Linked DNA regions of Homo sapiens: all the other regions are linked to region 4. The links come from fine-mapping of genetic effects on gene expression. A gene starts in region 4. Each other region holds a variant in brackets. All regions are shown on one strand. Distances are from middle to middle.

What was found. PIP is the estimated chance that this variant, and not a neighbour inherited with it, causes the effect.
Region 1: its variant is fine-mapped to the expression of ITGA1 in whole blood (INTERVAL, PIP 0.97).
Region 2: its variant is fine-mapped to the expression of ITGA1 in whole blood (TOPMed, PIP above 0.99). The same link has a PIP of 0.9 or more in blood mononuclear cells.
Region 3: its variant is fine-mapped to the expression of ITGA1 in whole blood (TOPMed, PIP above 0.99).
Region 5: its variant is fine-mapped to the expression of ITGA1 in whole blood (INTERVAL, PIP above 0.99). The same link has a PIP of 0.9 or more in neutrophils.
Region 6: its variant is fine-mapped to the expression of ITGA1 in gastroesophageal junction (GTEx, PIP above 0.99). The same link has a PIP of 0.9 or more in esophagus muscle, lung, sigmoid colon, spleen and stomach.

What each region holds. Positions count from the first base shown.
Region 1 is chr5:52,834,915-52,840,313 of GRCh38, forward strand. All of the region lies in intron 1 of ITGA1 (integrin subunit alpha 1), which reads left to right. Among named protein-coding and RNA genes, the nearest start is that of PELO-AS1, 37 kb to the left of the region's middle. The variant C/T (reference allele first, on the strand shown) is at 2,355.
Region 2 is chr5:52,741,264-52,746,662 of GRCh38, forward strand. All of the region lies in intron 2 of PELO-AS1 (PELO antisense RNA 1), which reads right to left. Among named protein-coding and RNA genes, the nearest start is that of ITGA1, 44 kb to the right of the region's middle. The variant C/T (reference allele first, on the strand shown) is at 2,811.
Region 3 is chr5:52,765,056-52,770,454 of GRCh38, forward strand. The region is part of intron 2 of PELO-AS1 (PELO antisense RNA 1); the gene reads right to left. Among named protein-coding and RNA genes, the nearest start is that of ITGA1, 20 kb to the right of the region's middle. The variant C/T (reference allele first, on the strand shown) is at 2,556.
Region 4 is chr5:52,785,050-52,790,448 of GRCh38, forward strand. ITGA1 (integrin subunit alpha 1) reads left to right here and starts at 2,867. Exons shown (of 29, transcript NM_181501.2): 1 at 2,867-3,365. The coding sequence starts at 3,305. It overlaps PELO (pelota mRNA surveillance and ribosome rescue factor), which reads left to right and starts at 2,867. Exons shown (of 3, transcript NM_015946.5): 1 at 2,867-3,365. It overlaps PELO-AS1 (PELO antisense RNA 1), which reads right to left. Exons shown (of 5, transcript NR_186455.1): 2 at 486-543. RefSeq lists an enhancer at 2,555-2,834.
Region 5 is chr5:52,919,785-52,925,183 of GRCh38, forward strand. ITGA1 (integrin subunit alpha 1) reads left to right here. Exons shown (of 29, transcript NM_181501.2): 17 at 548-684; 18 at 2,993-3,103. Among named protein-coding and RNA genes, the nearest start is that of ITGA2, 67 kb to the right of the region's middle. The variant A/G (reference allele first, on the strand shown) is at 2,719.
Region 6 is chr5:52,895,243-52,900,641 of GRCh38, forward strand. It overlaps ITGA1 (integrin subunit alpha 1), which reads left to right. Exons shown (of 29, transcript NM_181501.2): 10 at 2,213-2,286; 11 at 2,997-3,141. Among named protein-coding and RNA genes, the nearest start is that of ITGA2, 91 kb to the right of the region's middle. The variant A/G (reference allele first, on the strand shown) is at 2,052.

The DNA of each region.
Region 1 (5,399 bases), 50 kb after region 4:
TGAACGCTAACTATTATACAAGAGTTCATAACTGAGAGAAGGACAAAGAAGAAAGGTAGAAGAAGGATAAAAGAGAAAGTAGAAGGACGTAAAAGGCATTCTGAGTTGAATCAGTTCTGCACAGGGGATTTCTGGGATATCCCATACAATACTTCCACTTACTTTTTTTGGGCCAGTATTTAGTCGTACAGCTATGCTATCTACCTGTTGTCTTCTGGCTGTGTACACTGCTGCCCCAAGTAAAGATTTTATTACTAATGAAAAAAACGGATATTAAGAGCTAATAAGCCTTCTTAATCATATCCAGAACTGTGCTAGGCGTTGAGAATGAGAATATAAGTTCTTATTTTTAAGTACTCTAAGGAATTCCCAGTCTAACAGGAGACTAGTACATGTAAACCAGTTACCTTTAATATAAAGCGATACATCCTATGGGATAAATGTGTACAAGTTCTGCAAAAACAGAGGAAGAATGATTATCAACGGGGGAGTTGGGGAGAGTTCACCAGGCTAAGAATTGAAGAAAGGAATTTCCAGAAGTGGGGAAAACTTTAGCAGAAGTTCGATTGAGAATACAAGATGTTTCAGGGAACTGCGCATATTGAAGGGTGGCCATTACTTGACATTCTGAGCCAGAGTAGTAATGAGATTGGAAAGGTCAAATGAGCCCTCATTTTAATGGGTCTAAAATGGTGCTTAAAAAGTGGGACAGCATTTATTGGGTGATGAATTTATAGATGTGTGTGTGTATATATTTTGATACAAGAAACCCTTCTGAAGAAATTAGTTATTAGATTCCATTGATGTCACAAGGTGTTCTTTTTGTTGTTGTTATTGGTTCGTTTGTTCTAATTTCTGCCCTTTTCAAGATTCAAATCACAACTTAAAAGCAAGGAGTTGCAAGAATATATGGAATGGTGAGAAATGATTGATGTTAGAAAGCTTTCGAAAATTGCAATACATAAGGAAAATTGTCCAATGCACATTCTTATTTATCTGCATTTATCTTTCTATATCCTGTTGAACTTTGCCGATAATTGTAGAAACACCTTGGCATTTCTTTCTTCCATCTTTATATTTTCTTGATATCATTAGAAATAGATGTTCAGTCTACCTCTTGCATGCTGACCAATCCTAAATTGGGCGATGACCTATTTATTTTGCATCTTCCCTGAATGCTTAATCTTCATGAACTAGAAATGGCCAGTAGAAAGTCAGTAAGTGTTACTTAATTTACTTCCGTATTTATTAAATTTCTCCCAGAGTAAGGAATTATGAGTTCCTGGAGCAGCACATGTGTCTCTTTCTTACAGAAAATTTCAGTTCCATGGTGAGGATTATTTGCACATCTCTGAAGAGGCAATGGTCCATCCAGACAAAATAGCACAGAGCCAGTACATAAAATAAGAAAGTGGACTGTGGACAAGTCCTGACAAAATTATGGAAAGAGGAACTAGTGAAAATTCTAGCAAGTCAGTATCTTTTCTGGCCAGTACATTTGTGTAAGCAAATTGAACTTTAATCATAATATAGTGCCAATTTGATTTCCAAAATCTTTGTCTTTTTTTGGTCCCGCCTTGGAAGTTGAATCTCAGTCATGTACACCAGAATATGAATGCGAGATGACAGCTCCCATAACAAATCACCCTTGGCCAGATTTCCGCCACTTGGTTGTTCATTTTGCCTACCTCTGAAATTAGCAAATCTCTGCCTTTGTCTACTTGTGCCTTCTCAGATCTGCTGCTCCTGGCCCATTCCTTGATCTCAATGTGGCTGAAAGTATTAAGATTTTAGAGCATGTATAAAGATAATAAAGGTCATTCAATCAAGCTCTTCTATTTTGTGCATTTTTTGCTTCTCTAAGAAGCAAGAATGGCACTGTGATTTCATTGTTGAAATAGTTAAGAAAATAGGGGACAATTTTGATAAAATTAGAAAATCTTAGAGAAGTATCCTGTTACTACGTCTTCAAATGTATAATGATAATTATACAGGAAAATTTAAAGGCATTTTTATCATAAAATGCTTCAAGCAAACGAGAAAATTATGAGGAATAATATATCAAATAGCAATGTGCCCTCTACCCAGCTTTGCAAAATCTAAACATTTTTCTGTAATTGTTTATTTTTCATAAGAAATAAAACTTTATTAGGATTTTTGAGAAAGTCCAGTAAAGACCAAACCTCTTCCTCACTTGAGATCAGAACCAATTGGGAAATGACAAAGAATCAGACTGATGAATCAGCATGGCTGATGAATTAAATTCCCACTACTGAACCGTAGAGGAGGCTGTCTACACTCCAGCGCCAGCCGAGAGCCTGACACTGGACGAACAAAGCAAAGCATTTTCTTAA[C/T]GTAGGCAGGCTCAGTTCTAAAAGAAAATGAGAAAGAGAGGATGGGGCTGGCCACACAGTGTCTCCTTCCAGACTCACCAATCAATTAGTGTGAAGGAAGGGCAGGTTGAGAAATAGCCGAGAAGTATTACAACCGGTGAGGCACTCACCCCATGGAAGGAAATGTCAGAAGTGGAAAGTTAGCATTTCCCTCTAAAAACATATAAAGTTAAAGCCATGTTTTTATTCCCTTTTAGACCCTATTTTTTCCTCCCCTTCTCCCATGCAAATGTAACCTCTACCCTGAATTTTAAGATCCTTATATATAACAAATACTTAGTCACTAGTGTTGTGATTCTAAGTATCAGAATGCTTCCATTTAAGGGAAATATTGGCTGCCGGTTCTTGGGGATATTGACTATAACATCTGCAGTTACTTCAGTTTCAAGATACTCTTGTAGACTAATGGAAAGAATGTAAAAGATGATGCTACTAGATAGAAATAGAGTTTGGATCGAAGGATGTTACTGCCCAACTAATGTTCTAAGTGCTGAAAGATCATCCTGGTCTTAGCAACAGCAATTATAACTAAGAAAACAAAGTTTAGAGTTATCTCAAAACAGAAAAGAAAGCATCAAAAAGTTATCTCTTTCCTCTGAAACAAAAATAAGCATTCTAGTGACCCTTGCCTTCTGAAATATTTCAACATTCCAAGCTACTGAGACTTTTCTTATTTTCTTATAAACAAACTTTAATGCCCTTTAAAATACTTTCTGATTTCTTTTCTAAGCGTTTTCAGGTGAATAACAAGTTACATTCGTTTGGCTTATTTTCTCTTCATAAAATGGACAAGTTTTTAGTTGAGCAGAGGAACCGAAAAACTTCTGAATGAAGGAAATATTTGGTAGTGAATGATATAATGGAAAATTGCTATAATAAGTAGCTGGGAAGAAGCAAGGAAGGGAGAGAAATTATACAGAATCATTTTAGTTTAAGTGGCAGTGTATGATTAGAAGCAGTACTGAGACATTGAGAAAAATAGTCTATTACATACCATAGGAAAATCAACAATGGCATCTCTGAATATGGAATTGCTAGTTAAAGCTACTAGGTGACTCTAGGATGGACAATTTTTTTTAATAGGTTTTTGGTTTTGGTTGAGGTACACTGTCAGAGTGTGCACAGTATTTCATTTTGTTAGTTAGCTTCATGAAGACCTTAATTTATTAATGTTAATGATTGACCACTTGTGTGTTAAACCAGAAAGTATTTAGTCAGTTGAATTCCATCACAAAAGAAATGTTATGAATCCGTATATTTTGCCTCCTGTTTCTGAGAAATATGGCAAATAAAAAAAGAGAGGTCAAACTAAATCTAATACCTCTTTAAGTCCCACAGCAAAATAAAACATAGGTAGGCCTCATTTTATGTTTTGATTATGTCTTGAAAACCTTGTATACAAGTTAAAACATTTGTAAAAGTCTAGGCATGCTTCATTTTTGAAATAATGTGGTAGATAACTTAAAATGCCAGTAATTATTTTCCAGTCTAAATAATCACAACATTGAGTCAGGTGTGGTGACTCACGCCTGTAATCCCAGCACTTCAGGAGGCCGAGGCAGGCGGATCACTCGAGCCCAGGAGTTCAAAACCAGTCTGGGCAACGTGACGAGCACTTTTCTATACAAAAAATACAAAAATTAACCAGGCATGGTGGCATGTGCCTCTGGTCTTAGCTACTTGGGAGGCTGAGGTGGAAGAATCACTTGAGCTGGCGAGGCCGAGGCTGCAGTGAGCCATGATTGCACCACTGCATCCTAGGCTGGGTGACTGAGTGAGACCCTGCCTCAAAACAAAAACAACAACTACAACAACAACAACAAAGTCACAACATAATTTAATAGATTTTTTCATATGTTGGAATTTCACTAAGTGAAGAATACCTGTTATATGTTATATGTTATAGGTGATACCGTAAGGCATATGAATGATCATATTTCTAAAAAACTTTTTACTTTGGCTCCTAAATTTCAATAATCTAAATAAATACTTTGAGGTATATTTGAATATGTTTTTTGTTTTCATTCATTTCTATTTTATTTTTATTTACATCTGAATGTGTTTTCACGAAACAATTTTAGCTCCAAACTCCAAATTGCACTATTAGGGAAAGGGAGAATAGCTTTTGGCTCTTCTTGTACTATTTGAACATTAGGTAACTGGTTACTGTCTTCTGCACACTTTTAGGATGTCATTGGTTCAATCTCAGGGTCAAGTCTTACCCAACTGTCCTATGTACTCTGTCCATTCATGCCTTAAAAGAAAGAACCTGAAGAAAAAGTTGTACCTTTATTAGCAGGTTCTTTTAAATGAATTTTATTAATTAACATATAATTTCTTCTCAGTAAGATATGTGAGCTGGCAACACATTGCCAATCCTATGGTTATTTTTGTTAGTATGCACAATAGGTAGTTTCATGGGTCAGGAAAGCAGAAATAGTATACAAGGTTAAAGAAATGATTTTCAGTTCTCTAATTTCCACTGGAATTATTAAACATATAAATAAACAAAAAAGAAGTAAGATAACTCACTGTCCCTAGGTGAAGCAATGAAAGTAAGTGAAGTAGTAACTGTGTCTCCTGTTTCACCCTCATGCTTGGAACATGTGTATGCCTTCAAAAGCTCACATCCAAGTCATCCAGAAAAATTAGCCTGTTAAATAGTATAGGAGAATCAACAATGGAATCTCTTAGTGCCTGGAATTTGCAATTGCCAGTTAAAGCTAGTAGGTAAATTAAAAATAATTTATTTTACAGTGTATACTACCTCTTTGCTTTACTGACCCTCAAAAACGCCTGCTGTGTATACTAACAAAAATACCTTTATAACTGGCAATATCTTACTGAGAAAAAGTTATAAGTAAATGAATAAAATTCATGGAAAATATTCCACTAACGAAAGTACCACTTTTATTCAGATTCTTATACATGCAAAGGCTTACAATATCATATTTCTGGGTAAATACTTAAATAGGATGCCACCCTGCTTTGTTTTGAAGCGTAGTA
Region 2 (5,399 bases), 44 kb before region 4:
AAAATATACCTCAGAATGTGGCCAAGGAAAAAGATAATGTTTGTCCCTCAACCTTTCCACTGAAGATCAAGAATCCAAATCCCTGTGAGAACATCATGCCAGCTGACATGCTAGATTCTGTCACTCCTTGGCTTAAAACCCTTCAGTAGTTACTCATGGTTCTTAGAATAAAATCTAAACTGTTACGTATGGATTTATGGCTCTCCCTTATTGTCTCTTCTTCTTTATTTTCAGCCACACCACTTATTCTACTCTCCAGTCATAGTTTCTTTCCTCTCCAGTTTCTGTCTCTTCTTCAAGCCTTATCTTACAATATTCCTTCTTGCTGGGACATTCTCTGCTGCAACGCTCTCCTGCCCTCCATATTCCTTCCATTACCCACACAGCCACTCCTGGCTGGTAAGCCCCATTCATCCTCCAGTTTGCACTTGGACACCACTTTTTGCAGAAGCTCTTCCCTGACTCCCCGGGTCTGGATTAAGTGCCTCCCTGTGAGGCCCTCACTTCCCTCTGTAATTATCATAGTTCACTATAACTTCTTGTTATATGGTTTCTTTTGCCAGTTAGACTGTAAGTTCCAAAATGGCAAAGACATGCTGCCAATTAGCAAATATTTTTCATGTTCACTCTATGCTAGACATTTGGGATACTGTGGCACACTAAATATAAAGTGTGCCCAACATTGCGTCTTAAAATGAGGCTTTTCCTCCCAGATGTGGTGCATTTATGATAGAAGACATGCCTAGGGATACCATGGACCTTTTTGTTCCATGCATATACATGAGGCAGGGCAATTTCTAGAGGATGGAATCACATTCTCCTGGAAGGTAGAATTAGGGTGCAACCATTGGAAATTGCCTCTGCCTGGGCTAGATAAGGCGGTGCCAAGGGTAAAATAACTTTGGTGGATTTTTGAAGTACTATGTGTCAAACCCTATGCTGAAAACAAGAAAGAGATTATTCTTGAACTGAAGCCAACATGTCTCAAAATACTCTGAGCACGAATCTTAGTGGTCTTTATGGTGACAGTGTTTGATAGTACTAACCCATTATAAGATTACTTTCCTGTATGTACTTCCTGCTAATTTATTTAACAAAAATCCTGATATGTGATATACCTGCCAAGCAATTAACGAGATTAGAAATGAAGTAGTCCAGGAATATAAACTGCAGAAGAAAGCAATTTTCACCCCAAAAGTTTACATTTGGCTGAAAAGCCACAATTTAGACCCCATCTCACTGGTCTAATAACACCTGAACTAAAGGAGGCATTTCATTTAATTATCCAAACATATTGGCATGTAAATTCAGGCTATCAGTAAAAATGAAGCGAGATGATGAACTCATCCCTTAGGACTCGTGATTTTGAACAGCTTTTCTCTTTTTAGGATAATTTGTGCTGCTTTATCATCTCAGAAAATCTTTCATTTGTCATGGATGAACTGAGATAAGGGAAGTTATTGCCACCTGGGTGCCTCTCTAATTTTCTAGTATAACAATTGGTATATATTCACCCAGTGAGCAGATTATACAATTTTACCTCTTTCCCTCAATCTAAGGGCCACTGGGAAAATGGAAAAAGTTGAGAGAAAGGGAGAGACAGGCAGAGAGAAGGTAAAAAAAAAAAAAACCCAAAAGAGTAGAATTTTATATTAGATGTTTGACATGAGATTTAATGAGTCTACCTCTGTGGTGGCTTTGTGAGAGACATCTGTTAGTCTTAAGTCCAGAAGAGATAAATTTATTATTATTAAGAGGAATTTGGGGCCTCTGAACATACATGTTAACTTCTTTTTCTTTATTAAATTACTTTAAAATTATAATGTAGAAAAAGTGGTATTGATACTGCAAAGTAGATATAGGACTGGTTACTGACTGAATAGAGCAAAGGAAGTGACTGCTGAAGTCTCCACAGGGGAAAGGCACCAAAGACCGTGAGTCATTTCCCTCTGCAGAAGCCTTGAGGGTCTCAGGGTTTAGGGCCACTAGAGATCAGGATAAGCAAGGCCCTGGGAAGGCACTTAGCTAAAAATAGAGTGATTATTCAAAGTCTGCATTATAAACTGAGGTCTTTTCAAAAAGGCAATGATTAACTCTAGGAAAAGCCAAAAGTTGTCTGAGAAATAAACTTGGAAAAGCGATGGATGTTATTTATGTAACCATAACCATGCTAACATGCTTGTTTAAAGAGAATGTGTGGTAGAGCTATGCTGGGAGGCTGAAGAAAAGGCAAGTCGGGGTGTGGTGATGGCAAGGGAATGCTGAGAAGCGCAACATTTTTCAATGACTACCAAAGGAAGCTAGTAAATCATACATAATCGTGACATATGAAGACATATCAGTAATATTATCTATAAATGTGGAGGAAATAGGGTGAAAAAGTTGAAGAGTTGAAAATGGTTGCTCTGGGGCCTAAGGCTGGAGCATTGGGTAGAGTGGGTAGGAGAAGGGACCACTGCTTTCTAACAGGGCACTTTTATCTCTATCTGATTTCTTAAACTCTGTACATGTATAAAAACAAAAACGTTTTTAATAATTAAAAAGAAGAGAAGTGGGTGGCTTAGGTTGCTGGAGTAGTGGGGATATTAGCCTGGAAGAAATTTTTGATCCCATACCTTTTATTCATTAGCTTTATATACTCAGAATTTCAGGATCTTCTGTGTCAGTAAGTAGGTGATACATACTCAAGCCTGAATTGGTTCATCACTAAAGTAATCATAGCAGTTTGCAGCAAAGAGAAGACAGCACAAAAATTCAAGCCACAAAAGGTTGCACTGTGACTCTTCTGTAAACCTCAACCCAGTGTCAGA[C/T]GGCTGTTTTTTCCTTTCTTACTGCTATATTTTCAGTGCTAGCACAGTGGCTGACTCACATGGGTGCCTCAGAAGTAGTTGACAAAAATGCACAGAGATTACAGAAATGTTAGTTAAGAAAAGATTGATGAATTAATTGGCATGGATTGGGAGGAAGGAAGTTCTAAGGAAGACTCAACTTGCAAAAGGCCAAATATAACTGGGAGCTAGGCCAAATTTTATCCCTTTTAAGGAATCAAAACCAAGGTTAAGCCAGGGTCAAACCACTAATAAAGGAAAATGAGAACAAAATAAGTTCAAACTGGTATATCTGTGAATTTAATTTGCTTGCTAAGCACGTTGTGTATGAAGTGGGTGGAGTTTGTGAACTGAGGGTGTTCCGTATCTCATATATAGTCCATATCTCATATACATTATTCTAGTTGATATTTCAAAATATAGAAAAATGACAAAGTTTTCATCATTCAACTTATTTGGATGGTCAAGAAAATATAGAGACTATGTGATAAGTGACATAATCAATCAAGTTCAAAATATAATTTTGAAAAAAAGAAGTGGTCTTCTGTCTAACTAGGAATACAAATTTTATGTTTAACAGCATGCATTGTTTACTAGGTCTGCCTTAAAAAGTACCGCACACTGGTTGGCTTAAACAACAGAAATGTATTGCCCTGAAGGTTTGAAGTCTATATTAGTCCAATTTCATACTGCTATGAAGAAATACCCGAGACTGGGTAATTTATCAAGAAAAATAGGTTTAATAGACTTACAGTTCCACGTAACTGGGGAGGCCTCACAATCATGGTGGAAGGCGAAGGAGGAGCAAAGTCACTATCACAAGAACAGCACAGGAGAAACCCACCCCCGTGATTCAATTACCTCCCACTGGGTCCCTTCCACAACACATGGGGATTATGGAGCTACAATTCAAGATGAGATTTGGATGGGGACACAGCCAAACCACATCAAAGTCCAAGATCAAGGTGTTGGCAGGTTTGGTTCCTCCTGAGGTTTCTGAGAAAGAATCTGTTCCATGCCTCTCCCCTAGCATCTAGTGGCTTGCCAGAAATCTTTGGCATTCCTTGACTTATAGATGCATCACCCCATCTCTGCCTTGATGTGCACATGGTATTCTTCATGTGTGCATTTATGTATCTAAATTTCCCTTTTTGTAAGGACACTAGTCATATTGAATTAGGGGCCTACCCTAGTGTATTAGTCAGGGTTCTCTAGAGGGACAAAACTCTCTCTCTATATATATATATGGGGAGTTTATTAAGTATTAACTTACATGATCACAAGGTCCCACAATAGGCCATCTGCAAGCTGAGGAGCAAGGAGAGCCAGTCTGAGTCCCAAAACTGAAGAACTTGGAGTCCAGTGTTCAAGGACAGGAAGCATCCAGCATGGGAGATAGATGTAGGCTGGGAAGCTAGGCCAGTCTCGTCTTTTCACACTTTTTTCTACCTGTTTTATATTCTAGCCATGCTGGTAGCTGATTAGCTTGTGCCCACACAGGTTAAGGGTGGGTCTGCCTTTCTCAGCACACTGACTCAAATGTTAATCTCCTTGGCCACACCCTCATAGACACACCCAGGATCAATACTTTGCATACTTCAATCCAATCAAGTTGACATTCAGTATTAACCATTACACCTAGTCTACTATGACCTCATCATAATGAATTACATCTTCAGTGATGTTATATCCAAATAAGCTCACATTCTGAGGTACTGGGGTTAGGACTTCAACCTATAAATTTGAGGAGATACCCACTATAATGAAGAAATCATGTAGTCTAGGTTTTCTAAAACAATAATCTTAGAGATAGACAGACTATCCAAAAGGGTAGATGACTGGATAAATGGAAGTGTCTGATTCTGATTGTTAGGCTGGGTCCAGCCCAGAAGATGATGATGATGTGTGTCCTTGGGAACAAAAACTAGTAGAGTAAGTGTCTCTTATCTGGAAACAGCACTAACAGCCAGGTGAAAAAAATGCAAAATATTTGAATAAAATGAATTGGGAAAGGAATAAGGTCCAACAGCAGAGGATCCAACTGCAGATCACAAAATCAAGGAGAGCCTACAGCTGAGACACAAGACAAAATGAAAAAGCTAAAGAACTGAAGAGCTGGTGAAATGAAAACAGAATACCGAAGACTGAGCACAGAAATCAGAGAGCTATGGGGAAATACCTTAGTTCAAGCTATAACCTGCTATCATCCTTTGCATGTCTGTGGCAAGCGGTGTGAGCAGATTAGGTATATTTAAAAGTCCAGAACCAAGAAGCATAATAATTATTTTTCTGTCCAACCATAAGACTCATAATTTTCATATCAATGTGATATTTGAAGAACTTAATATCAAATTGCATCTGAAGTTAATTTTTCCCTTGAGTAATAAAAGCAACTTAGAGAGAATCATAATTTGTATGCTTTGTGCCCCAGAAAACCTCTGTGTGGCTACAAGTAGCAGGAAGCCAGACCTAACAGAGTTATGATCCTTGTCTCCAATGTCCCTCAAATTGCACCACAGTCTAAACGGCATGTACTTCTGACCCCACATGAATATCAAGTTATTACAAACT
Region 3 (5,399 bases), 20 kb before region 4:
TTCTCCAAGACATGGCTAAAAAGCTAGAAAACCATGGATAGTTTTCAACCCCCCAAATAGGTTTCCCTTGAAAAATTTTTCCTGGAGGATTTCAGGGGAAGAAAAAAAAGCACATAAAAGAAGACTTCTAATTTTAAAACATTTCAAATGTCTTTGTTTTTTAGAGCACTGGAAGATCTTGCAATACAAGCCCATTTCTTAAATGGCAGCAATCAATTGGATCAAGTAGCAACTACTCCCTTTATACAGGCCTAGAGTTTTCTGTTCACCCCAGTTCTCTCTGTCCTTTTCACCAGAAAATGTTAGTTTCCAATCAATACTAATTTGATCATCATTTTTATCTTACTAAAGTAGAATAGTTTTGTGTCTTCATGTCATCATCAAAATTGGGGAAAAAATAAACTAAGGTGATAATGAATTTAAAGAATACAGTGAGAAGAATCACATTTATTTTATAAATTAATTATATTGTATTAATTATATTATTATGTTTTAATATGCATACAATATGTTTCTGTGTAGAAACAACTAAAATTAGTTGTTTTTTTTCATATATTAGCCCATAGCCTTACTTGAGTTTGTGATTCCTATTTTATAGTCATGATTATTAACTCACTTCATATATAGTAATTGAAAGCTGTGGGCTTCCTGTTTGCTTTCTCCTCTAAAGACTATTACTAATACTCCTAACTCATAGTAGACACATCTCATGCCTAATGTCTCTGCAGCTTCCTTGCTCACCACCAACCCATCACACAACACACATTAACACCCACCAACTACACAATAAATGAAACAGTTGTAAGTTGTTCCTTGCAAAGAAGTAGCCATTCATGGTGACATTGCCAGGCGCTTGGCCTAAGGGCACTACAACTTGAACCCACTAAGCTAGGGAGTGACCTAGCTTTTTATTATGGCAACCAGACTTGCTCTGTTTTGAATTTTTGATGTTATAAGATTTTAATTTTTATATGTTTAAAATTTCAATTTTAATTTAATGAGATTGTCCAGATAATAATGAGAATAGAGGAGACAGCCAGACAGGACAAAAACAGAAAGTAAGATGAGACCACATGGTACATAAAAAAGCTGGCTGAGCATGGTGGCTCATGCCTGCAATTCCAGCACTTTGGGAGGCTGAGGCAGGAGGATCACTTGAGCCCAGGAGATCACGGATGCAGTGAGCTACGATTGTACCACTTACTCTAACCTGGGCAACAGAGTGAAACCTTGTCTCTGAAAACAAAACAAGAACTACTGAGAAATTCATGTTTTTTTAAAGCTTCCTCTGTGACCAAGAGATTATTCCCTTTCAGAATATAAATATTAGCCTAAATTAGATTATATAATTATATTTTTAAAAAGTTTACTTTTTTTTTTCCCACATCTCAAGGAACTGCCTATGCTAAGGGACTCCTAACCAAGTCGGCCTCTTGTTTCAGGTAATTTTCAACAATGACCATGTCTATTAGTCAGGGTTCTCTAGAGGGACAGAACAAACAGGATATATGTATATAGGAAAGGGAGTTTATTAAGGAGAATTGACTCACGATCAAGAGGTAAACTCCCACGATATGTCGTCTGCAAGTTGAGGAGCGAGGAAGCCAGTGGTGGATCAGTCCCAGTCTCAAAACCTCAAAAGTAAGGAAGCTGACAGTGCAGCCTTTAGTCTCTGGCCAAAGGCCTGAGAGCCCCTGGCAAACCGCTGGTGTAAGTCCAAGAGTCCAAAAGCTGAAGAACTTGGGGTCTGATGTTCTAGGGCAGGAAGCAACCAGCACAGGAGAAAAGATGAAGACCAGAACACTCAGCAAATCAGACCCTGTCATGTTCTTCTGTCTGCTTTTATTCTAGCCATGCTGGCAGCTGATTAGATGGTGTCCTCCCCGATTGAGGGTGGATCTGCCTCTCCCAGACCACTGACTCAAATGTTAATCTCCTTTGGCAAGACGCTCACAGACACACCTAGAAACAATACTTTTCATCCTTCAATCCAGTCAAGTTGACACTCAATATTAACTGTCACATCATGTAACCAGAAATCCACTAGTGTGGGTTGAATCTTTTATTCCTAAAATTGATAAAGAATATTTTTCAGGACTCACTCCAATTCTGAATCTAGGTTAACATCACCAAAGATGACTTTCTGATTTATGTTGGTAATTTCTAGGTGTTTGGCCATAAGCTGAGTATATCATTAGTTTCAAAACAGATATACTCATCTCCCAAATGGCATTAGTATGTCATCTTGTTAAGAAAAGTTCACTTACAGTTTGTCATAGTTCATTTTCTTTTGCTATAACTGAATACCACAAACTGGGCAATTTATAAAGAAAAGGAATGTATTCGTCACATTTCTGGCAGCTGAGAAGTCTAAGAGCATGGTACTGGCATCTTGTGAAGGCCTTCTTGCTGCCTCATATCATGGTGAAGGGCATCGCATGAGGAGAGGGCAACAGCATGCCAACTCAAGTCTTTCTTCCTCTTCTTACATAGTTACCAGTCTCATCAGAGGGCCCCACCCTATGACCTTATCTACTCCTAATTATCTCCTATCT[C/T]CCATCTCCAAATACCATCAACATAAGATTTGGGGAATTAAGTTACCAACACATGAAATTTGGGGAACACCTTCAAACCATAACACAGTTTCATCAGTTTCTTTGGATATTGTGGCTTATAGATATACCACATTTCTGTAATTATTAAAAAAAAAAAAAACTTGAGCTTTATTTTCCAAGAGCCTCTGCCAGAACTTAAAGTGTGTTTCAGATTTCTTGTAACTTGAGAACTTCCTCTATAACTGGGCCTTTGTTTACCCCAACATATCTGTATATCTAGGCAATCTATAACTCTACTGAATTCAGGGAATATCAGAAAAAGGAAATAAATGTGCATTGAGTCAATCCACAAGTTCAGTTTGAATGTGAATATTTCACTTCCTTAAAGAAAGCAGAGCTATTCTTGTCTAGCTTATTTGTCCCTTAACTTTAAGTTTAATCTGTGGCATTCTCTTCTTACATCAGTAAGAAACAAGAATCATACTATGAGTCCTGGGGGGTCCGACAAGTTGGTTCTTGCAGATTTTCTGAACTCCAAAAATTCCTTGGTATCAATTTGTAGTTTAAATTCTTTTCAACATGCTTTCACCTCCTATCTTCCTGATAGCACAAAAATTAGCAAATTTTTCATACTTTGCTTGAAATTCCTGCATAAACTGGTAAGATATGGTCACAGGCAGAAAAATTATTTACAATGGTGATCATTTCCTTTGTCATATAATGAAATGAACCTAGCTTGGAAAATCACAGCAAAACTTGTCTGGTGAATTTGGACACTAGGCACACCAACATTCTCTTGGAATCTGAATAAACTGTTGAAAGCTTCTTTCATCACAGTGCTCTATCTGAAAAAAGCAAAATTAATTTTTCAAAGTTTGAGCCAACTTCTCAGCTTTCTTTCTGGTAAACACTTACTTCATTATTTTGGTCTTTAAAATATTGCTAAAAATGTCAGACTGTCTGCACTGGAAGTCAGATGGACAGAGTTGACCTGCTGTAGAATATTTCTTTACAACCTCTAGCTCCTCTTATTTACCCTGAGCTTTTGTGCACCTGTATCCTGTATGCTGCAGTGTTTGTTTGCCACAATACAAATGTCACCCACCTACCCCACCCAAAATAGAGGCAACAGACAAAAGTATTGCCTCATATGCCAATAATTTCCTATGATCTAAACAAAACCCATTTATAAAATTCTAGACAACCTAAAATAAGCAAATATTAATACAATTTTGCCCACATTCCTATTTGATTTATGACTGAACTGTTGGCAGAAACATTATTTTATTTATTATTATTATTACTATTTTATTTATTTACTTATTTTTTGAGACAGAGTCTCACTCTGTCTCCCAGGCTGGAGTGCAATGGTATGACCTCGGCTCACTGCAACCTCCGCCTCCCAGTTTCAAGCAATTCTCCTGCCTCAGCCTCCCAAGCAGCTGGGATTACAGTCATGCACCACCACGCCCGGCTAATATTTCTAGAGGGGGGCTTCACCATGTTGGCCAGGCTGGTCTTGAACTCCTGACCTCAGGTGATCCGCCCACCTCGGCCTCTCAAAGTGCTGAAATTATAGGCATGAGCCACTGCGCCCTGCCAGAAATATTTTAAAGCCAGCACAGCACATCACTATTTGTGATCTAGGAATCCTAATCCCTGACTTTGAATTTTCTCTGGCTCATGTCATGATCCCTCCACAGCTGTGTTATAATGTGGAAATTTATCTTTCATGTGGGTCTGACTTAGCCTTTACTTTTTTTTTCTGTCTCTTACTTAAATCATGATGTTTGAGTCTCATCTTTCATGTTTCTTTACTATTTTCTCTACTGATCTTTGTAATTCCTGGGTTTTCCTAACTACTGGGCCAAACTGAAGGCACATTAATCCATGATTCATGATCAATCCATGATCACCTTTTGAGGTTCTATAGAGAAGACGGTATGGTTAAGATTCTAATGAGTACATATGGGAAAAACGTTGGTCAACTTTTCTTTTTTTAAGATCCCGGGCCTGGCGCGGTGGCTCACGCCTGTAATCCCAGCACTTTGGGAGGCCAAGGCAGGTGGATCACGAGGTCAGGAGATGGAGACCATCCTGGCTAACACGGTGAAACCCCGACTCTATTAAAAATACAAAAAATTAGCTGGGCGTGGTGGCGGGCACCTGTAGTCCCAGCTACTCCGGAGGCTGAGGCAGGAGAATGGCGTGAACCCGGGAGGCAGAGCTTGCAGTGAGGCGAGATGGAGCCACTGCACTCCAGCCTGGGCGACAAAGCAAGACTTCGTCTCAATAAATAAATAAATAAATAAATAAATAAATAAATAAATAAAAGATCCCGCCAAATAGTCAGGGTTTCTGGGCTATGAGGAAGTGAACTAATTTATTAACTGTAAGGTTGACCTTTGTAAGCCATAAAACAGATATCTGACCAGTTTCTTCATATGGCTTTGTAGTCATTGATCCTGTATGTCTACCTAAGCACAACCGTTATTTTTTATTGATGCAGTTTTTATATCTGACTAAAGGAGACTGTTCCTAAATACGGCACTCCAAAACATTCAAATAACTTGGTTGCATAATCAGTTCATTCAATGATAGCCAGAAAAATAGGAGAACAAGTTTTATTGTTCCTATGCAAATAACCACATTGTTATTAATATGACAGAGAGGGAGAAAAAGAGAGAAAAGAGTAGAAGATTTATTTCTGAATTCTGAGGGTCAGTGAGAACATGAAACTAAATATTGTACTAAATTAATAATTAAAGAAAGATTAAGAATAAACAAAAAGAGTGTTCAGCTTAGGTTCAGAAAAGGTGTTCGGCTTACTTTTCTTCATCATTT
Region 4 (5,399 bases):
TAGTACAGTATTTTCATTCCCACTTTACATTTGAGAAAACTGAGGCTTAGATAAACTTGATGACGTTTCCCAAATCACACAGCTACTATATTGTGGTTCCAGGACTTGAGTCCAAGCAGCGTAACTCCAGAACCTTACTTACTCTAGTTACTTTACTCAGTATATTAGATTAACTCCAAGAAGAATACTTTGGTTTTAAGTATATGTTTTTCTTTTTGAGATTATTGGTTAATAATCTCAATTACTCTTGCCTCATTTCATAGACATCCACTTTCCAAATTCTTAATCAGTTCAGTCTCTAATCTTTCAGTGCAGCCATCCCCAACCGTTTTGGCAGAGAGACCGGTTTCATAGAAGGCATTTTTTCCACAGACCAGGGGTAGGGGAAACGGTTTCAAGATGATTCAAACACATTACATTCATTGTGCACTTTATTCCCATTATAATTATGTTATAATATATAATGAAGTAATTATAAAACTCACCATAATGTAGAATCAGTGGGAGCCCTCAGCCTGTTTTCCTGCAACTAGACGTTTTCATCTGGGGATGATGGGAGACAGTGACAGATCATCAGGCATTAGATTCTCATAAGAAGCGTGTGCAGTTCACAATAAGGTTCATGCTCCTACTCATGCTTCCAAACCCTTAAAGAGATCTGATCAAATCAAGTCTCATTTAAAATAGAAAAGTATGTAGTATAAAGTCTAGAGCTGAAACATTTGTCATCAAGTGTCTCATATCAATAACTAGTTTGTGACTCTGGGCAAGTTTCTGTCTTCTCTAAATCTTTACTCAATGACATGTCTTTCTGTCAGTCAGAATAAAATTGGTTAAGAAAATAACCGGCTTGACATTTATTTGTATTTGGGTTTATTGAAGTTCAGAAAATAAGCACTGATTCTAAAATTAATTCTCTAACCATAGTTATCTCTCAGTCTCTACATTTGTATTGACTAGACATATAAAAGATTCATAAATATGTAAACATGTAAACATAAAATTTGTAACTTGTGAAAATTAATTGTAACAATATCACTGTTAGTGATGGTTATCACCAATAATTTGTAAGTCCTAGAGGAAATAAAAATATTAAAATTGAAATTATATATTAGCCCCCAGAAGAAAGGTAAATTTCCCAGTAATTGTAAACTTGAACATATTATATGTTAACCCTACTTTATTTCAATATTTTACAATTTCTTTTTGTTTTTTCTAATGAAATATATTGCAATTTGCTAAAATGCCATATATGTATTTGCATATGTATGTATATGCTGTACATATATATGTACACATACATACATACACATGATTGTGTATATATAGACACACTATTATATGTTTTTGAAAACTAAGCAATTTGGAGAAATATCATTGGGAAAGTACTTACTATGATTTTTAAATGTCTACGAATTAATCAATATCTATTGGTTACTGTTCAAAGCACAGAGAGTCATACTGAGAGGCATAAGACATAACTGATACTACCAACAGGGAAACGAGATATACACAGGAAATGAATTCCTTGGCAGGGTATGAGAGCATTGAACACAAACAAAGGAACTTAAGTAAAGTCCAATGGGATTGAACTGTGACCCAACATAATACAATTTTTCTAGAGACTCATTTGTGTAAATTTGAAGACAGAACTGAGAAATGACATTATAAAAACTAAAAACGGGAGAACGAGATTTTTAATGTATTTACTAAATAGTGAATCAGTTCAGATACATAATAGAAAAGGAATTTCTTGATTAATGGGTCAACATACTGAGATCTGATGGCCTTCAACCTCCTTGGGTCTGCCCACCCCATTTTTGACGCTCCTTAAACTTCTTCAACTTTTGTCTTCTCCAGCTTTTAGTTGCTGTGATCCTCTATCTGGCAATGTATCCAGTGAACCCTGTGGGCTTCTTCCTTCCTGTCCCTCGTGTTACCTGTTCTGTGCTACCTGTGTTGCGTTCTGCTCAACGAACCCTCCTTTGGGTGGCACTCTTGTCCTGCCTAGCCCTAGTTCTGCTAGAGATGCTCAATTAGTTGTTGAGTTGAAGAATTGAATTGAACTGTTTCCCTCAGATTCCTCTAAACACAAATCCACTTATTCTTTCTGTCTTTGAAATTCTCAAAACCGCTAAGACACAGCTATTTTGAAAATAGCCAGCATTGGTTGAAGCTAGGGTGAATATGGCTTTTGACTCAGAGAGGTTGTTCAACTCACCAGGAAAGGGAAGCATTGCAAGTTCCTAAGCACTTCTGGACTCTTAATGCATTTTCACTCGTGAAAGTTTCAAGCAAGAAAAAAATAAAGTAGTGCCCCGAGTTCTTTATTAGATTCAATTACCAGCGTACAAACATCCTAATTCACTTAAACAAAATAGCCCACACACATTCCATTTCCAAGGAGGCTGCTTTTCTTCCTCTCTTCCCTTCTCGCTCTCCCTCTTACTGTTTTTCCTCCGTCTTGCTTCTCCTTTTCTCCCCTTATCCTAGTTATCTCAAAGAAAAGCTTATCTGCAACCACCCTTTAACCACGAATTACCATAAACGAAGCAACCCCCCCACCCCCCCATAAGCGAAAGCAAAGCCCTCAGTGGAGCCTGTCGGGGTGGTGGGGACGCCCCCTTTCGTGCAAAACGACTTCACGGTGAATTTCAAGTGTCCGCAGGGGATGGAAGGGGGGATTCCAGATCCTCGCATTTTCACAGACGGCCTAATCCCTCTGCGCAATGGACCCGGGAAAGCTGCCTCCCGTTAAGGGCGCCCAGGCACTGTCAAAGCGCCCTCCCTGCCCGGGCCGGGAGAAGTAAGGGGTGTGAAGGCGGAGCCACTGGGCTGGCAACACCCTCCCGAAGGTCCAGCCCTTACCCGCCTTCCTACCACCTTAGGGGATTTGGCCCGGAGAACGAGATCACCCTCTCAATGAAAGGCAGATGTCCCTTTAAGGTTTGCTTCTACAGCCCGTGGACTTTAGCCTAAACACGGACCCGCGAAGCTGGCTTTATTTGTCCATGTCTCGGACAGAGCCTGGGAAGCTGCCAGTGAGATTTCAGAGACCAAGAGCGCGAAGGGGCGGGCGATGTGGCAATCCGTCTGGGATGTGAAAAGCGTGGAGCGCATTTAGAGGAATTCGACGAAAACACAGGAAATCACTCCTCTCCCGCTCCTGGGCGCCGCTGCCACTGGGGCAGAGGACTGGGAACCGCGGCAGCGGGATAAGTGGCCCAGCCAGAGAGCGCAGCTCCCGCGCCCGGTCCTGCCCTGCGAACCAGCGCGGCCCCCTGGCGCTGAGGCTGCTCCGGCCATGGCCCCTCGGCCCCGCGCCCGCCCAGGGGTCGCTGTCGCCTGCTGCTGGCTCCTCACTGGTGAGCGACTCGCTTTTCTCTGAGCATCTCCTGCTCGCGGGCTTGGGGCTTGGAGCGGGGAGGGAGGTCCTCAGAGCCATGGGCCAGATAGGAAGAGAGAGCGCCCATCCACTTTCGGGCATTCCAGGTACTCAGGCCAGGCTACGGGGCAGGCAGGAGTTTCGCGTTCTGGTTTTGATATGAATTAGTTTTCGTGTCTCTCCAAAGTCCTTCACCCTAGGAGTAGGAGTGAGGCAGCACTGAAAACCTTAGAAGGTAGAATTCACTTTTAAAATTAAAGTTGTTTTTACAATACACATTGTATATTAGGACTTTGCTGAATATTTCCTCCCCTCCACCCTTTTTTATGGCATGGGATGGGAGGGTGATGCTTATAGGGCGCCTGATACATATGCAAAATTCCTACCCTCGGGTTGTTCCAGAGTGGACATTATTGAATTTTCTTGCTGTCTACTATTTAGGCTTTTTTCCCATGCAGAACAAGAAAAGGCAGGGATGCAAGACGAAACTGCCACTTGTTCCAAAATGATGTTTCTATGTCAGCACCCAAGAGGAGGGATATTTTGAAACGTAGAAAGGAATGGTGAACATTTTCTCTGTAAATATCACAGGGCAGTCTACTTTTAAGATGCAAAATATAGTATTGTTATTTGTACATAAATGTGTATTTTTAAGGAGGGGACTTAAAAACATAGTGGAAATGCAAAGTTGTATCCAATTTAGAAAAAGCTTGAAATATAGCATTTTGTAAGATTTTCCCAATAATGAACTCATGGTCAGATCTTTTTTACCAGTTACTGATTGGGGTGGGGGAAAGTTGAAATGGTGAAAAATGGAAGAAGGTGGGGGGAAAGTGTATCGATAGAATCTCTGTGTGAAAGAAAATCACCTTATTAATGGGTTAATTAACAGCTGGCTTTAACATATCATTGATATTCAATTGTTCAGTGTTTTTACTGCTGGCATGGTTATTAGTACTAGTTAATTTAGCATTTTTACCACTAAAAACAGGGTAGAGCCAGCTAGTTTAGACCTGCCTTAGATGGCCAAGCATTGTTAAGTTTTATGAAGATGATTTAGAAGTTGATTATCAGCAAGCAGAGCTTTTTTCAGAAGGGAGGTAATGTAAAGAGAGTTAATAATTAGCTACTGGCTTTTCATCCAAACATTTCCCACTACTCAGGAAATGTCCAATAATCCAAACAGTGGTAACTGCTGAACAGCATTATAGCCGGTGAGTGGTTTAACTTACCAGCTACTGCCACTACTTTTTACACATATTTGACCTATGATTCTTCTCCAACTCAAATTTTTTTAGATTGTATTTTGTTGTTTTTGTGCAAAATCTGAATACAGTAGTTTACTATCCAAGTTGTACTTTTTCATTCTACCAAATAAGCAGTCTCTAGAGTAGAAATGATGAAATGAGGTTTGCGTATCCTCTAAAAAGACAAGAGTGAAACTTGAAGTAACAGAGAAGTTTAACAAGTTACAATTTCATATATATGTTGGTGAAATATACATTGGTGAATCCAGGAAGAGACTTAAAATATTTAGAAACCTTGTGTGCACTATATTTATGCCCATTTCGCAACACATGAGGGATCTGAAATTGGACTGCTTTCCCATCAGTCATTATATTCTGTAGGCTCTTCTTTAGCAATCTCTTTCAGATTTGGAAACTTCTCATCAATTCAGAGTCCGTTTGTAACCTGGGGACTCATCACCATACTTATCCATGCACACTACTGTAGAGCTTATCTTTCTGTCTTCAATTTGAACCCAACTTCCAGTCTACCCTCCTAATACATCATTTTTACTATATCTGTTTTTAGTCAAAAATCTTTGGTGGTTCTTTGTTGCCTTTAAGATAAAATCCAAAATTCTCAACTGACTGCCCTAATCCAACACCCTCTCTCTATCTCCTACTACTCCTATGTCAGTTTCTTATTGCTGTTGTAACAACTTGCCATAGATCACCAGCTTAAAACAACATAAATTTACTATTGTACAGTTCTGTAGGTCAGAAGTATC
Region 5 (5,399 bases), 130 kb after region 4:
CAGTGTAAGATTTCATTTATTTTCTTTATTGTGGTATGCTTATTTTATTGAACCTTAATAGTGGTTTGACCATAAGCTGAGATAATGTCATTTTATATATAAATAGATTAAAATGTATATATTTGTAAATAAATAACTAAAGTATATTTTTGTCCCTATTGAAATATAACATAATCAATATTCTAAGCAGGGTTCCAACATTTCTAAACTTAAAAAGAATGTTTTAAGTGAAAATATAATAAATACAGTGGTGGCCTGGCAATTAGATGATAGGCAGGTGTGCATGTGTGTATAAGAATTATAAACAATAAATGTAATTAGACACTGAAAGCACAGTGAACTCAGAGACCAGTTCTATAGAGTTCCTCAAGGTTATCTTCATGACTGCTAATATCATTGTTATAACAGTGTGGATATGCTGAACAATAGAATCTTTTTTGATTGATTGCCAAAGAGATTTTTCTATAATGCTAATTTAATAATCTGTACAATATGAGAATCACTTCAAATAAACATTTCCATCAATTATTTTTTAAAATTTTTGTAGATTTGCAGTACCGTGTCACCCTAGATTCACTAAGACAAATATCACGAAGTTTTTTCTCTGGAACTCAAGAGAGAAAGGTTCAAAGGAACATCACAGTTCGAAAATCAGAATGCACTAAGCACTCCTTCTACATGTTGGCAAGTAAATCATATATCGTTGCTGCCTTATTCCAAATCAAGAATACAGTAGAGATGTCTTATTTCAAGTCAATCAAATTCTTACTGTTTTATTTCAAAATGCACTTATGATGTCATAAAGGAAATCTTGTTTGTTCATTTTTATCATAAAATCGCAGGTCTAATTTTCTCATTTCCAAATATTTGTAAAACTATCTCTAGTCTTCCCTGTCTGCATTATCAGACATCCATATATTATGGAACGGCAGGAAAAGACACAGTGTTCTAGTTGACAAGAAACCTTATTCATGTCTTCATTTCTTTCACTCATTCATTTATTCCTTCAACTTGAAAACATTTAATTTCTGTGGGCCTTGTCTGTCAGTTGTGGTTGGTAAGTGATTAACTGCTCTGGGGGCAGACTGCTGGGCTGTATGCTTTCTGGGATCCATGTAACTACATATCTCGCCGTTTGATTTTAGAGCGAAGGGGAAAATTATCTGGTATTTTCTATCATCTGTAGGCTTTGTGCTACTTCAGTTTTTTTTTTTTTTAATTTTAGTGGATGAGGGAGTTTTGGAAATCAAACTATTAATGTTTAGAGATGGCTGGTAAGCCAGTGTGAATCATTTAAAATGTATTTTGTTGGGACACTGTGTATATGGGGAATGTTCCCAACAGAGGGCAGGAGTTTCCTAAACATTTTCTTAAAATGTACATGAGAGTGATAAAAACAAGAAGCAGCATGAAGGTAATGAGGAAACTGATTTTAGTAACTGACATTAAGACTTAGAGACTTGACGGTAAACTTGGAGCTTTAAAGGAACCAGGCCAATTTTCCTACTTCTGACTTATTTCTGTATTATTGATATATTCATAGTCTGTATTTTGAAAATTGTAGTTCAGGGGCAGGGGAGTGACAGAAAATGTGCACCCTTTTGTGCCACATTTGTTCTTCCTCAGTGATTTTCATGTTGATATGCTTCATGATACTTATCATGAAGCTTATTCTGTCAGGACCAAGATCAATCTATTATTTGGTAAAATAACACTGGAGTTGCCCCTCCTATTTAGTTAATCAGAACTGAACACTTAGGAATTAGAATGTGGATAAAATTTGAATGGGTATGAAACCAGATATGGCATTGTCTCCAACCTGCTAAAAATCATCTCAGTCTATGTTTGTCCACAAATTCAGTGTCTAAGTTATGTCCAGGTACTGGTGTTTAAAGGACTGAAATATTTTCAAAATTTCGAAAATTGTTTTGGATTTTGAAAGAAGCACTTTGAAATTTGTTCTGGAGTCAGCCAGTGTAGAATTTGTATCCCAAATATTCCACATTCTGAGAGACTTTGGCAACGTCGTTTGGTCTCTTAGAGGGTCAATCTTTCATCTGTAAAATAAGGACAATAATAGTTACTCATCTTAGAGGACTGTTGAAATAATTTGCAATAATGTATATAAAGCTCATAATTTTGAATACTATAAATGATTATTGTTATTGGTGGCATGTTAACAGTATTAATCATATTCACATCCTTTCCAAATAATTTTACATTATAAAATTCTTGGCCAGGCATGGTGGCTCACGCCTGTAATCCCAGCACTTTGGGAGGCTGAGGTGAGTGGATCACCTGAGGTCAGGAGTTCGAGACCAGCCTGGCCAACGTGGTGAAACCCCGTCTCTACTAAAAACACAAAAATTAGCTGGGTGTGGTGGCACATGCCTGTAATCCCAGCTAGTCGGGAGGCTGAGGCAGGAGAATCACTTGAACCTGGGAAGTGGAGGTTGCAGTGAGCCGAGATCGTGCCGCTGTACTCCAGCCTGGGTGACAGAGAGAGACTCTGTCTCAAACAAACAAACAAACAAACAAACAAACAAAAACTTATAGCTGTAGGTATATATTATATTAATGAAATGTAACTCATTTTATAGAAAGTTTGCCCTTCTGAAGTTGGGAAATGTTCCCGGAAGTGTTACATAATGATCTTTGGCTTGAGGTCTCAAGAAAAACTATATTGTGATGCAGGTAGCTCCTATGTTGACACAGCCA[A/G]GTGTGATGTTGCCATCACTCCAGCAGGGCCCTCTGAGGAACTGGAAGTGAGTCAACAGGTCATACTCTGAAACCTCCACATTCCCCTATGCCCCTTGTCAGAATGCCAATCCCTCTCCAGGGAAGCAAAAGCCTGATGAGATCATATGTCAGATTAGATGCACAAGAATGCTGCAGTAAGCCTGACCCTTGGGAACAGAAGAAGGAGACATAACAAGATCAGAACACCCGGTAAATATGATACCAGTGATATATTTTATGTTTCACCCTCTAGGACAAGCATGACTTTCAGGACTCTGTGAGAATAACGTTGGACTTTAATCTTACCGATCCAGAAAATGGGCCTGTTCTTGATGATTCTCTACCAAACTCAGTACATGAATATGTAAGTCAGATTTCTTTAAAATACAAAATACCAACTTGTGAACATTTTAATGTCACTAGTAAACTGTGTTTTTTCACTACTCTGCATTGATCACAAAGAACGAACAACTAACTGGAAGAAAGAAAAAAAAGGCAAGCAGATTTTATTCCTGGTCAGGAATGGAGAAAGAGGGAGCTCTTGCTCTAAAGACCTTCTCTTCAAGCTGTGAAAACCTGGGGAATTTTAAGGAGTTAGATGTGGGGCAGGGAGGTATATGTAAGCATGTCCAGAGAGGAACTCCAGATGTACAAGTACAGCTCATAAACATGCTTCCTTATACAACATATGTTCAAGAAATGGTGGCCATTTTCTTCTATGGCAGGGACTTTAGCATTATAATGACATGTTAATGATCTAAAGGTAACAAGGGGTTGCTGGTTCTTGTTTGCTCCGTTTTCTCAATGGCTTTATCTTCCTCTGGTAATTGGCAAAGGGTCCTGAAGCTCCCAGGCCGTCTATAGTTGTTTTTCAGCAAGCTTACCTACAGATAAATAGACTAGAAAAAAAAAAACTGTTTAAGAAAAAATAATGCACTTTCTCAGCTATCTACTGTTTAACAAAATAATGAACTTTCTCAGTTATCTACTCTTCAAGAAAATAGTAAACTTTCTCAGCCATATCTCCAGGTTTGCCCTGGTAACATTAGGAAAAAGCTTGAAACCCATGCACACATAACCCTAAATCAATTTAAAATGTTTTAAAAAAGAATTAGGCTCTTCTAGACTTTTTCCAATCCTTCTAATTTCCTATTGTTGGAGTTTAAGAAAACTAATAAATGACACTCATTTTTACCTCATTTGAATTTAGGACCAATGGAAAGAAATCTCCCCCATTATTCTAATAAGCACTGGATTGCAGTGTATGGTTTAGGTATAAAGGGTGTCCTCACGCTGAAGCATGGACTTAGACCACCAGTAACCACCTAGGTCATCAGCAGTGCTGATCCATCTCTGTCCTTCTTCATGGAGCCCACCTTGTAAAACTTGTCAAATGGAGTAGAGCCAAATGTGTGCTTCCTGTGGGTACAGCTGCTCTGAGAATAGAAATGAGAGAAAGGGACTGAGTTGTGTTCACTTAGTTCCTGTTCCCAAAGTTAGAGTCCATGTGCCACCCCTGAGAGTGGAGTGAGGGGAGAGAAGAGGGAGGGTGTCACTAGCGTGGCTCCAATGGAAGAGATATGAGGGATGGGGAATTCTTTTTCCCCATACACCTATCTTCCATTCTCCCTTCCTTCCTACCAGATATATTGATTGTCTTATACATACCAGGCATTGGAGCTTACAGTCTAACACTGGAAACAGGTATTAAGTAGTAATTAGAGCATATGCTATGGAGGAGGATTTCAGAGCTCTCTAGGAACTTCCACCTAGGCTGAGAAGTCAGGACAGCCCTCCTGAAGTTGTGCCATTTCAGTGGAGCCCTGAAGGATAGGGTGATTTCCACCCTATTTAGGGGAGTTTGGGGAGCAGAGGGGATGCTAAGTGTGAAAGTCCTGAGCATGAAGGAAACAACGACATTCGCTAGTGTGGCTGACGCTAAAGAGCAAGAAAGGAGGTGACGTGAGGTGAGGCCGGAGGTAAAGGCAGGGGCCGGGTCATTCGGGACTTGGTGCCACTGCACAAATTCTAAACTTTTGAAAGAGCAGTGCAGTGCTTTTGAAGGTTTTTATTTGGTTCAGCCACACGACAGGATGCAGCAGAGTGAAGAGTGGTTGGAGGGAAACAGGTGGATGTGGGAGCCCCGTGGGAAGCTATTACTTTAGTTCAGGGAGGAAATGAGAATGCTTGGGTGTGAGGTGGTGGTGGGACTGCAGAAGCAAGAAAGGATTGGAGAGATATTTAGAAGAGGAGTAGAATGGACAGGGCTTGGTGAGTTACATATGGTGGTGGTGGAGAGGCGGTCAATGAAGAAGAATCAAGCAAAACTCCTAGATTTGTGGCTTGACCGTTTTCCACCCTCTCAACTGAGCTTTATGATATTCCTAAGTATTTGATTAATTTTAAGAGAAAAATCTCATGATTAGAGTTGAGTAGATTTAGATCTTGCAGTACTTGACTTTGTATTTCAAAACTGTCCTTCCCTGGCAGACAAAAGCCAGTGCAAAGCACCCATGAAAATTGTGCGTTCTTAAAAGGACAAGCACAATTTACATTTGTAAGTAAATGTTTACTCTTCTCCCCTATAAATTACAGGGATAAATATAAAATCCCTTAAGATTTTTGCAGGGAAATTCTCCTTATGAGTTGCTTAACTTACT
Region 6 (5,399 bases), 110 kb after region 4:
CCTCTTTCCCCTGTGCCTTTAGAAACAGAACACTCTAATTGTTTATGAGTCTGGAGTCCCAGCTGCTTCTGAAGAACTCAGCTGTCTTGTGCTCTGTGTACAAGTCATTTTTAAGTGGCTTTGGTCTCTCAACAGCTCTCCCGGTGTCATTTACCAATAAACCAGATTATGAGCTTGGCTGGCCTTAAGGAAAATACATAAGGTCTTCCAACTAATTGTGTACTTTTAATTTTTAATAACATGGGCTAAGATATGATAGAAACAATCTGTAAAAATAATTTAAAAGAAAAGTTACATAGTTACATTTGATAGTTCAACAGAATACAGTGTCATTTCTAAATCTCCTTTTAAGTAAGCAAGTAACCTAAAACTGGCAAAAATGAAGCCCACTTCAGCTAGGGGAGGGGGAGATCAATTGCCTGAAATGACATTTCAGATTATTTCTAACCTAACTACACCATGGATTAAAGGTGACAGGTTGAAGAGCCCAAACACTCCAAGAAGTCTCTATATTTAAATATGACATCATTTTATAAGGAACTTTACAGATTACAAATGTCTTCTATATCATCTTTGTTGCTACACTACACCAAAAGCAGTGTTTTGACTAGACTATTTCTTATTTTTTTCATGAGATATTTAAAAAGGCTTTATTTCTTTGTTGCTCGGGAAATCTCCATTTCCTGTCAACATGTATCTTAAGATGACAAGTAGCTGTGATTATGAAATTTCTGTTTGCCAAGGACAGTGCCATCTATTGAGGCAAGTATGCCAAGGACTTGCTTAGTACATCAGAAAATAGTCTACTGTCTCCATTTCCCGTTGAGCACTGGGAGAAAATGCCAACATTTCTAACCAGAGGCTGCACAGTGGTTAGAGTGGCTGGCCCAAACACCCATGAACAGTCCAGGGAGAAGTTTGAAGCAAGAAGCCCAGGAGAATATAGTGGTCTATTACCATGATGCCACTGCAGCAGGAAGAACATCACATAGCGTCCTTCTGTCTGTTCTCAGCTGAAGGCAGAATAGCGGCAGGGCAGGTGCTGAAAATAATGCAGGTTTCCGTTGCTGCATTCTTATTGATCTTGCAGATAAGTGAGAAAACACCTGAAAGCATTGTGGACTGAAAATACATGTTTAAATTAAAGTTAAAATGCATCTCAGTCATTTAAATTACAGGGCAATTCACACAAGAGATTAAAATGATATATTTGAATTCTTCACTGCCGCGTCTAATCTAGTCCTACAAAGGTAATTACTGATGTATTTGTTCACAATTTTATCCATGTAAATAACTAACAAATAGTTACATTCACAAATTTGATTATTCTCTTGCCTCAACGAAAGGGCAGACTGACTTTCTTAAGTGCTATTTTTAACTTATCTGCAAGGCCAAATAAATCAGTAACCCCTAGTGCAAGCAAATAAATCAACATTCCATCAATTCCCTCAGGAAATTGTGGCTTTGGGTTTGTGAATATTTTGAGAATAATTTGAGAGTAGCAGACTGCCATGGAATGCTCTGAATTATCTCTGCATTTCAGTAAAGAGCTTCAAAATGGGTACAGGATCTTTTAAAAATGTATGATTGAATGGCATGTGGGCAGCCCTATCACAAAGACCCCTCTGGATCTGTGAGTGATACTTACCACCAGTAATTAGAGCAAATAAATGCATACTAAAATACCTAAACCCTTTATCACACAATGAAATTCTGACAGAATCTATGGCCTGAATATGGGTGGGACTGATGGAGTTGAGAAACCTCTTTAAATATGTGAATGAAATTTTTTTCAGTCCCATAACATATTAAGGGAGTTTAGCCTAAGGGCTCAGCAGGGTTCCCAAGGCATGAATTTGGACAGGAATTTCCTACTGTAGTACATCCAACTTGAGCCTTGTGGACCCAAAGCACCATAGGATCCACAACATGCTACAGTATAAGAATGGAGATTTCTCAACCCCTCTGGCGAGGACAGGGCTGCTAATGAACAAGAATTTGAGACATGAGCCCTTTGACTATTTTTCTCTGTCTTCTACCCAGGCCTACCT[A/G]GAAATTTTGGGTTGAGAAATGTATGGCTGAAAATGCCCTAAGATGTTTGAAGTTCTGGTTGGTAAGACCACAAGCTCTACCAGGTATCTGTATTCTGCAAGTCAGTAGTGCATGAAAAGGCATTGTTACTTATTTACAGTGATATTTTCCTATGTTATAGCCACAGCTGACCAGTCAGCAGCTTCATTTGAAATGGAAATGTCTCAGACTGGCTTCAGTGCTCATTATTCACAGGTATGTTGACCAGTTGGTGAAAAATGAAATATATGTTTGCAAGACTTCCCTTCCCAAAACCAACATCTAGCCATCAGTATGTAAGTGCAACGTGCAGTTCATAGCTTGAACAATTATGCAGGCTATGATGATGTTTTCTAATTCAAATAGGAAAATATCATTTCACAAGCTTCTTATTAAGAAAATATGTTCTCTCACACAGTTCACTACATTGTACTAATAGTTGTGAATCAGACAGTGTGAGCTTTGCCTTGTAATTATGTATCTGTCTAAATGAAATAATTTAACATATTTGCTACAGATGTGGAATATTTTTCCACAGGTCAAGGAATTCAAGGGTCTTATTAGAATTCCATGTTCAAGACCTAGGATGCTGGGCACCCAGAATAAAGTAGAAAGACAAGATTAGAAAATATATCATTTGCAGTTAATGAAAGAAAAGGCATAATGGTCCTTGCAAAAGAATATTGACATTTCCATGTGCAATTTTACTGTATAACTTGGGTAAGTTATTTGTGCCTTGATTTCCTTTTCTGTAAAACAGGTATGGTAGCAATAGCATCTAACTCATAGAGTTATCATGAGGATTATATAAGCTAACAAATGTAAAGCACTTTGAACAGTATACCTATACACATTGTTAATGGTGTTTAAGTATTTCCCCTTATTATTTTTATTAAATATTATTATCTTATTTATTTGCATGTAAGGACTGGGTCATGCTTGGAGCAGTAGGAGCCTATGATTGGAATGGAACAGTTGTCATGCAGAAGGCTAGTCAAATCATAATCCCTCGAAACACAACCTTTAATGTTGAGTCTACCAAAAAGAATGAACCGCTTGCTTCTTATTTAGGTAAGGTTTGGATATAATTATAAAAGAGTTGTTTTACTTTTCCATTTTTTACCTTTAGCATTATTTGCTTATGTTTCTATAGGCTTGCAACCATATAGCAGGATTATTTCAACAAGTTGGGTATTTTCCAGAACCCATGCAAAGTTTTAGGCCTCTGAGCAGCTTTAGTTAGTCAAAATGACATACATGGGGGTCCTTTTTTGTTAGTAGGGCTGTCTAATGCAGGGAATGGTTTAGGTTGATATGTGCCCTTTCTGATATGTTCAGTTTCTCTGTGTCTGGTATCAACTTTAACTTCAAGGAGAACTTTGAACCTGGTGGACAAGAAATGAGAGTAGAAAAGGAAACCTCGACTTCTCCTATATCCTGAAAACCAAACTCATATTGTCTTAAATGTCTTCTATCATTAATTTCTCTCTATGGGTCCTAATTTGGGAAAAGAAAAATGTATTTTGTCATGTAACTTCTTCTTTAATAGCTCCATTCACAATCAGACAAATATTGAACTTAAACCCAGTGATATAACATGATCTTGTTTCCCAGTGTCTTGCCAGAAATGAGGAGTTGTATGTCTGGTACCACTTTATTTGGGATCTATACCAAGCTGAGCAACACCTGGGGGATGCCAGGGAACTCTCCCCTCACTGAAAAAAGATATTCACCAACAGTTGGGAGGACCTAAAATAAAAAGGACCATCAGGATATGGCTTCCCAGCTCTTACTCACTCAACAAATATTTGGGGGATCCTCTTTTGCCCCAGGCATTGATCTTAGTGCTGGGAATAAAGTGATAAAGAAAACACATACCTTGGCCTGGAAGCATTCACAGCTTCACGTGTTAGCCTTCCTCTCTGGGATCTTTCTGTCCCGGAGACAAGTCTTTTTCTCTCTGTCCCAGTTGCTTTCTATTTTATCAGGAAGGTGGCAGGTCTTTACTGCGGTGTTTATACATCTCCTTATTGAAGGACACCTATTAAAGCTGTAGGAGCAGCAGGACTTAAGAAGAATAAAAGGACTAGAGTTTTAGATGACTAAAAATGTAACAGTCAACAGCAGCTGCACTGTGACTGCTAAAATCTCTTAAGACATGTAGAACTGCATGAATGAAAGTCCAGTCTGTTTCTCATAGAAATCCTGTTACATTCCACTCTGGTCAGACAACAGCTAGAGTATCTGGTTGTTCTAAGTATCACATACTACAAGGAGAAAATGACAAACTAGGATGTGCCAGTAAAATATTACACAGAAAAGTCAGCTCCCGAAGCAATTCCCTGCTACAAGTCTCACTCTCTCGAAAACTTAAAGAAATTGAAGGTTAGAAAACAAAGTGTGCATTGCATGTATTTTAGGTATTTGGAGGATTGTGATATAAAATATAGGGGTTAGGCTTAAAATTCATTTCAAATTTTAGCATTAAAAGAGATCCTATGGAGCATGTAGTCTTAATTTCCAATCAAGAAACTGAGAGATAGAACAATTATGTCCCAGCTGCCTATGGCAGGTGTGAAACCACAATTGAGGCTTCTTGATTCTTATGTCAGTGTTTATATCACGATACCAAAATAACTGATTCTGGGTTGATTAAGAAAGCACTGCACAAATATTGAGTACCAGCAATGTGCCAAACACTGAGTTTATAGGGAATAAAAAGATAGATGGGGCAGGTCAGTTCCTACACTGATAAACCTTACTTTTTTGGGTGAGAGACAATAATGAAACAAGCAATCACTATCAGTATGATATGTGCTATGACACAGAATACCTAAAAAAGAGGGCTGGGGATTAGATTAGATATCTTCTAAAAGTTCATTACATCCTAAGGTTCTATGAGACTGTTTATGTGAAATACCTTGGAATCAAGAACCAGCTTAACCTGAGGCTTCTGTTATATGTAGAATAAATATAGAACATTTATCTTCCTATATAATGGATGACATATAAATTAGTAAAACTCCTTATGAAAGGCATTTGACAATGTGTTTACAGAGCTATAAAAAATGTTCGTACCACATTTATACAGAAATTTCACTTCTGTGGACCTAACCTAGGGAAAAAAATCCAATATTTAAGAATGCCAAGTGAACAATGATTTCCATTGTATTATTATTTATGTTATTGGGGGAAATGCCATTATCCTAAATGCCCGAAAATATGCAGGTAGTTAAGTAAATAGTAAATCCACTTAATGAATATTACACACCCATAAAAATAAAAATTATAAAGCTGCTGATTCTATGATACTAAAGACTTGAAGCAGT